Homo sapiens: one gene and its partner. The protein of the gene in region 2 interacts with the protein of the main gene of each other region in a pairwise test. Each region holds a gene or a part of one and is shown on either strand. Other genes may lie near its edges. The genes, in order: GLO1 and MAP3K13.

Region 1 (3,830 bases), on a different chromosome or scaffold from region 2:
CCATGCCAAGTACTTGCCAAAGTTAGACAACCTTAACTATTCTATCCCATAGTCTATCATATCCTTATCTTACAATCTTTCTGGAAAACAACTGGAATATCAAGAGTCCTCAAGAATTCATATTCTTGGCCAGGTGCAGTGGCTCACGCCTGTAATCCCAGCACTTTGGGGGGCTGAGACGGGCGGATCACGAGGTCAGGAGCTCGAGAAACAGACTGATCAACATGGTGAAACCCCGTCTCTACTAAAAATACAAAAAATCAGCCAGTAGTGGTGGTGCACGAATTAATATTCTTTTCTTTTTTTTTGAGATAGAGTCTCCCTCTGTTTCCAGGCTAGAGTGCAGCAGTGAGATCTTGGCTCACTGCAACCCGCCTCCCGGGTTCAAGCGATTCTCCTGCCTCAGCCTCCCGAGTAGCTGGGACTACAGGCGCCCGCCACCCAGCCCGGCTAATTTTTGTATTTTTAGTAGAGACAGAGTTTCACCATGTTGGCCAGGATGGTCTCGATCTCTTGACCTCGTGATCCGCCTGCCTTGGCCTAAGAATTCATATTCTTTGACCAAGATGTTCTCTTTCTAAAATTCTAAGGAAATAATTACTCTGACAAAGATTTATGTACAAAGGCATCCATCACAACACTTACACAATAACTATGTGCCAGATGCTGTTCTAAGAGATTCAAAGAAACTAATACATGTAATCTTCACAACAAGCCCATGAGATACATATTATTATCATCCCCATTTTACTGCTGAGAAAGTAAGTGGCAGAGAAAAAATTCTGGCCCAAGCAATCTGATTCCAAAGTCCTTGCTTTTAAACCACTAACTGCCTCTAACAAAGGAATAGTTAGATAGTATGACACAGGCATAAAAGAATATTATGAAAAACATTTAAAATGCTGCGTCGAGGTATATTAAATGGCATGGAGATATATACAGATGGTATACTAAGTCTAATGGCATGGGAATATATAAAATGGTATATTAGCTTTTAAAAACATTATATATATATACACACACACATGCATATGAAAACAAATACCACTTAATATGCTATTGAGATTAATTATATCTTAAAATTAATGTTACAGACTTTAACTTTATTATTAAGAGAACTATGTACTGTATCTGCCTAAACACATACACATAAAGAATATTAAAATTCACTTTAAAAAGTCTATACGTGGCAAAAAAAGTAAGATATATTCAACGTTAGTGAATTTATTGATAAAATAGAGGCTTATAAATCCTTTGCTACAAATTGTTAAATGGATATAAAAACAAGAAGGGCTTATTTTTAAGAAAATGATCAAGTTATTCTATGCTCAGATAACAGTTTTATTTTTATCACCAAAATAGTCTGTTAACTCCATGTGCCTCTTGTGAACACTTGCATGATCTTGAGAAAAAGTTCCTGTTTTAAAAAGTTAAGTTCCTAAAAATTATTGCTTTATTGGTATGGTTCTAAAATATCGTTTAAAATACATGTATCTCCTGTTTTAAAAAGTAAGACTTATGCTATGCTCATGTCTTGTCTCACCTGATAGTCCTTAATTTTGTCTTTCCCTTATCATGCTTTAAATTTAGAACAATAAAAATAAGGTGTCTTTTATGCCTAAACTATCTTTGGTTTTACAGGGATGGCTACTGGGTGACAAAGATTTGCTCCTGTGCCTTATCAAAAGGTGGACAATAGAAATAATAAGGTTTTTTTCGGGGGGAGGGGAAGTGTCATTCTCCAAATTTAATTAAGAAAACTACTGTAAGAAAACTTTTTTTTTTTTTAAGATGGAGTCTCGCTCTGTCACCCAGGCTGGAGTGCAGTGGCGCAATCTTGGCTCACTGCAAGCTCCGCCTCCCGAGCTTCAAGCGATTCTCCTGCCTCAGCCTCCTGAGTAGCTGGGACTACAGGCACCAGCCACCACGCCCAGCTAATTTTTATATTTTTAGTAGAGAAAGGGTTTCACCACATTGGCCAGGCTGATCTCAAACTCCTGAACTTGTGGTCCACCCGCCTTGACCTCCCAAAGTGCTGGGATTACAGGTGTGAGCCACCGCAACCGCCAAGAAAACTTTAAAGGTACAATCAAGGATGTTTCTAGTGCATGTCCTACCTGCCTACAATACAATCCTTACAAAACTGTAAAAGTGAGGCAAGGATGTGAACCAAAGGATTAAGGCCCCTTTAAGCACCAGTAAATGGATTTTTTTTTTTTTGGTATAAGGGATGAGAATTGAGTAGAGCTTCATTTTTAACCTAAGGATGTCCAATTGCTTCAGCACCATTTGTTGAGGCTATCCTCCCTCTGGTGAACTGCTTTTTCATCTTTGTCAAAAAGCTGTTGGGCATACTAGTGTGGGTATATTTTGGGGTTCTCTATTTTGTTTCAATGTTCTATCTCTCTGCCAATACCACAGAGTAGTGATTACTGTAGCTATGTAAGTCTTAAAATCAGGTAGAAAAATTCTTCCCACTTTATTCTTTTCCAAAATGGTTTGTTATTCTAGTTTTTTTGCCTTTCAATCTAGAATAACCCTGTCTCTGTCTAAAAAAGTTTGATAAGGAGTGTGTTAAACATGTATATTGATTTGGGGAGAATTGATATCCTTACTGTGCTGAGTCTTCCAATCATGAACACAATAAATCTCTCCATTTATTTAGATCTATGACTTTTTGCATCGCCATTGCTGTTTTCAGCATATGTGTCCTGTAAATGTTTATTAGATTTATATCTAAGTATTTCATTTTATTGGGCAATTGTAAATGGTAATGTATTTTTTAATTTTTGGTGCCTGTGTGTTCTTTGCTAGTATATAGAAACGCGATTGATTTCTGTATGTTTATTTTGTACCCTGCAACCTTGCTGAACTCATTTATGAATTCTGGGAGTTTTCTGTAAATTACTTATTATTCCCTATGTAGACAATCATGTCATCTTCAAATAAGGACAGTTTGATTTCTTCCTTTCCAACCTATATGTCTCTTATTTCCTTTTCTTGCTTTACTGCACTGTCTAGAACTTTCAGCACTTTGTCAAATAAGAGTGGTAACAGCAGACATCCTTGTCTTATTACCAAAATTAGGGAGAAAGCATCACCACTGAGTGTAATATTAGCTCTAACTTTTCAAGAGAAGCTCTTTATCAAGTTAAAGAAATGCCCCCATTCCTATTTTTTTCTGAACTTAAAAAAAATAATGAATGAGTGTTGAATTTTGTCAAATGCCTTTTCTGTACCAACTGATATGATCATGTGATTCTTCTTTACCCTCTTAATATGGTGGATTATACTGACTGATTTTTGTATACTGAACCAGGCTTGCATCCTAGATATAAACCTCACTTGGTTAAGGTGTATAATTCTTTCTATATATACTGTTGAATTCTGTTTACTAACATTTTGTCAAGGGTTTTTACATTTATATTCATTGGAGATATTGGTCTGTAGTTTTCTTGTACTGTCTTCATTTGTTTTTGGTATCAGGGTAATATTAGCTTTATCAAATGAATTGGGAAGTGTTCTCCCGTCTTCAGTTTTCTGGAAGGGGTTGTGTATAATTGATGTTAATTCTTCTTTTACATTTGGCAGAATTCTCCAGTGAAATCACCTGGGTCTGGACAAATCTTCTTTGGAAGTTTGTTAATCATAAATTCAATTGCCTTAAGTTATAGGACTCATCATATTAGTTCATATTGGATGAGGAATTGGTCCAATTCAAGTTGTCAAATTTATGTATACAAAGTTGTTTTTAGTATTCCCTTATCTTTCTTATGTCAGAAAGGTCTGTAGTGTATCCCCTATTTCATTCCTGATATTGGTAGTTTGTG
Region 2 (3,830 bases):
AAGAGTTTTGGATAAGGGATGATAGACCTGTAATAACAATCTCACTGAATTTTCATTTGAATTAAATGAGGTAAGATACATAAGGCACCGTTATCAATAAATATTGGTTTCCATCCTTGCTGGCTTTAGCCAGGCCACTAAAAAGAGTACTTCTTTTAAAACACTGTTTAAATGATAGCCAACTAATATCATGAATGAGACCATGATGTTTGGGATTCATTACATTAAAAGGCTAATATATATGCTGGGATTTCACTAGTGCTGATAAGGAAAAGCAGAAATAAATCCAAGCTTAAGTAAATTCCACACCAGTCCTGTTTTACTTGTCATAGTAGTTATCTGAAAATGTGGCCTGAGGCAAAGTGCTCTCTGCCAGCCTTGAAGATGAATACAATCCGGTACCAAATTGACAGCTTCACATTAGATCGAATTCACTTGCAATAACCTGTTCAGAACTTTAGAAAATTAAAGACTTAGGGTTTCAGAGGCTTTAATGATCTAGGGACCTATGTTTAATGATGAGAGGCTTACGAGCGTGGTGGCGGGCGCTTGTAGTCCCAGCCACTCGGGAGGCTGAGGCAGGAGAATGGCGTGAACCCGGGAGGCGGAGCTTGCAGTGAGTGGAGATTGTGCCACTGCACTACAGCCTGGGCGACAGAGCGAGACCCCATCTCAAAAAAAAAAAAAAATGATAAGAGGCTTCATCCTCAAATAGTATCAGAATTGAGGAGGCTGTAAGGCAGAAAGCATCTGACTCTATCCCCTTGCTTCTCCATTTGAACCAGGGATTCCTTCACATTTACCATGCTCACAACCCCAACACCAATGGCTATTTACCAAATAGCTCAGAGCTTACAATTGCTTTTGAATACCATCCTCCATGCCCTGGTTTTGCACGTAATATGTAAAATTTATATAACTTAGGAGTTTTGATTTAACAGTGTTAGTCTTAGTGAAAATGCATAAGGATTAAAATATTATGGGATATATGAGAGAATTGGAGAATTGATATCATACACCAGGAAAGTGAGAGTAGGCAGTAAGCCCCTAAAAGAGGGAACTTTTTATGGGAACTTCCTCTCTGCCTCTGTTGGTGTGACAAGAGAGGATGGACTTGAGAGGAGACTAGAAAAATATAACATTAGAATTTTTCTGAAATCTTCTCTGAGACAAAGTTGTGGTCACAGAGCCTGCAGATTTAATGTAAGTAATGAGATCTCTTGTTACAGCAAGTCAGATTGATCTCTGTCTTCCCAAAGTCAGCTTGAAACCTAAAGAAGCCAACGCTGCTGGGGTTGGGAGTGTTATTGCTAATAGAGGGAAAGGCTTACTGGGTAACCCAATTACTACTCTATTCTACGGCTTCCTGACTCCTTCCCTCTAAGATTAATTCATAAGGAGAACAAGTTGGTTAAAAAGGAGACCATTCAGAGAGGCCTTCAGGTAGTTCATGTCCTTTACATGTATGCACTGGATGGCAAAAGCAACAGGGTAAGAATGTGAACGGAAGAAATGAACACTACACAATCATGTTTACTTGCAAGTAAAGCAAGGAGGAGGTTGTTCAGTCAACTAAGCACTGTAATAAATATTGCTGAGAATGATGGTGATAAATAAGAGCTGTTTTGAAGTTTATAATGAAGGATTGATTTATACCGTCCATGGAGGAAAGGCAGGATTCATTGTGAGTCCCCTACCTTCACATAATGAGGTAGAATGCAGTAACCTTTGGTTCAGAAATTCTAGGTTCGAGTCCTAGCCCCATGACTTTGGGCTAATCTCTAGTTTTCCTTACATAAAATAACAATACTTGTTACGTATCCCACACAGTTTTTGCCAGGATCAAAGATGTGATAATGGATTCCCCCTAAGATATTATAAACCATGAAAACACTATGCAAATATATATATGTGTGTGTGTATATACAATAAATATATAGTTTTTTTAAATTTTTATTATTTTTTGAGACAGGGTTGTGCTCTGTGGTCCAGGCTGGAGTGCAGTGGTGTGATCATGGCTTACTGTAGGCTTGACCTTCTGGGCTTAAGTGATTCTCCCACCTCAGCCTCCTGAGTAGCTTGAACTATAGGCTCATACTACCATGCCTGGCTAATTTTTAAATTTTTTGTAGAGATGGGTTTTCACTATATTGCCCAGGCTACAAATATATTTTGAAAAGAGATTAATCCTTTGCTTATCTAACCCAAAATGTGATGATAAATAATAAAAATAATGTTTAAAAATAGGAGTTATACTGAAATAAATCATTTTATCAATTTCTTTCTTCATTCAATTTGGGGAACTAACTACACACTCCTCTTAAAGTGATTGGTAGCCAAGAAATCATTTTGAAAACAGAGATTACTAGAAATAGCCCTGCTTCTCTTACATAGCCAGTGTTTATTTTTCCTATGGCCATTGTGAACCTTGTAATTGTTTATTTCCTCCTTTGCTTAGACACTAGAAGCTCAAAGCCAAATCTGTAATCCACGTCTACAGAATCTTACGGCATATAATTTGTGAACAATTTTTAGTTCTAATGTTTTTACTTTTCCTTTGCCTCTGCTTCTTTTTATTTTTATTATTTATTTATTTTTATTATTTTTTTTTTGAGACAGAGTCTTGCTCTGTCACCCAGGCTGGAGTACAGTGGTGTGATTTCAGCTCACTGCAACCTCCTCCTCCTAGGTTCAAGCAATTCTTCTGCCTCAGCCTCCCAAGTAGCCGGGACTACAGGCACCTGCTACCATGCCTGGCTGATTTTTTGTATTTTTAGTAGAGACAGGGTTTCACCACGTTGGTCAGGCTGGTCTCAAACTCCTGATCTCAAGTGATCCACCCACCTTGGCCTCCCAAAGTTCTAGGATTACAGGCGTGAGCCACTCCACCCAGCTAGCCTGTTTCTTATTTATCCATTTTATCCTGTTGTATACATTTCTGAAACTCAGTTTAAAAAGTTTTTTGAACACATGGAAAACAACAAATCAAGCCTTCTAGCGGGAAGGTCTGGCATTAGCTATCTGAGATGACAGAAGGTGAATACTTCAGATAATAATGAATTTTGTTTCACAGTTGTATGATTTAAAAGCACCAAAAAGGAAAAGTGGTTTCAGATACCTGGACGTATCTGCCCTACAGGTAACCAGGTAGGTCAACAATAACCCAAGAGATGCGCAAACAGAATTACCCACTGTGCTGATTGAAACTGAACTAAAGGTATGATGTCTGAAAACGTCAACTGAGGTTGATAAAAATTCTGTATTTCAAAACAACAAACCAAAATAGCTGAAACATTAGCCCCAGAACTCACTTAGGTGATTTGAGATCACGATGAATAATTTTATGGAGGTGCAAATAATTCATTCCACTTGCAATTCCTGTGGACCAGTCTACTAGCAATCGAGGTGTGATCTTCCTGCCAGCTCGTAAGACCTCGTAGAGTTGTCCATGGGCACAGTATTCCATGATAATACAATAACATGGGGCCTGAGTACAAACACCCCTTCCAAGAAAACATAAACATGTACATCAATACACACATACAAGTATACATATGTATATTTAAAGAATATTTAATAAAAACCAATTCTATACCCGAATTATTTTAAAAATGTGTATAGATAATAGTTCCTGATTCTCAAATTAGCATGGAAACTTCTCTAGTCTACAGGTTTCTCTATGATGCACATAGACAATTTTTGTTTGTTTTGTTCACTCTGGCTATCTATATGCTGTGCTGTGTCTGGTGCCTTTTCTGTGGGACCCTTCCATTCCGGGACAAAGAGCACACTTTTCTGAAGTTTGTGCAGGCTGGATACTGTGTTGTTTT

The links.
Region 1: the proteins of MAP3K13 (region 2) and GLO1 interact in a two-hybrid assay, tested with the Homo sapiens proteins (one large-scale study listed by BioGRID and IntAct).

Annotation. Positions count from the first base shown.
Region 1 is NC_000006.12:38,689,538-38,693,367, forward strand, and holds part of GLO1 (lactoylglutathione lyase), read right to left. Parts: intron 1-3,830. UniProt on the Homo sapiens protein: Catalyzes the conversion of hemimercaptal, formed from methylglyoxal and glutathione, to S-lactoylglutathione. Involved in the regulation of TNF-induced transcriptional activity of NF-kappa-B. Required for normal osteoclastogenesis.
Region 2 is NC_000003.12:185,443,118-185,446,947, reverse strand, and holds part of MAP3K13 (mitogen-activated protein kinase kinase kinase 13), read right to left. Parts: intron 3,504-3,830; coding exon 3,312-3,503; intron 1-3,311. UniProt on the Homo sapiens protein: Activates the JUN N-terminal pathway through activation of the MAP kinase kinase MAP2K7. Acts synergistically with PRDX3 to regulate the activation of NF-kappa-B in the cytosol.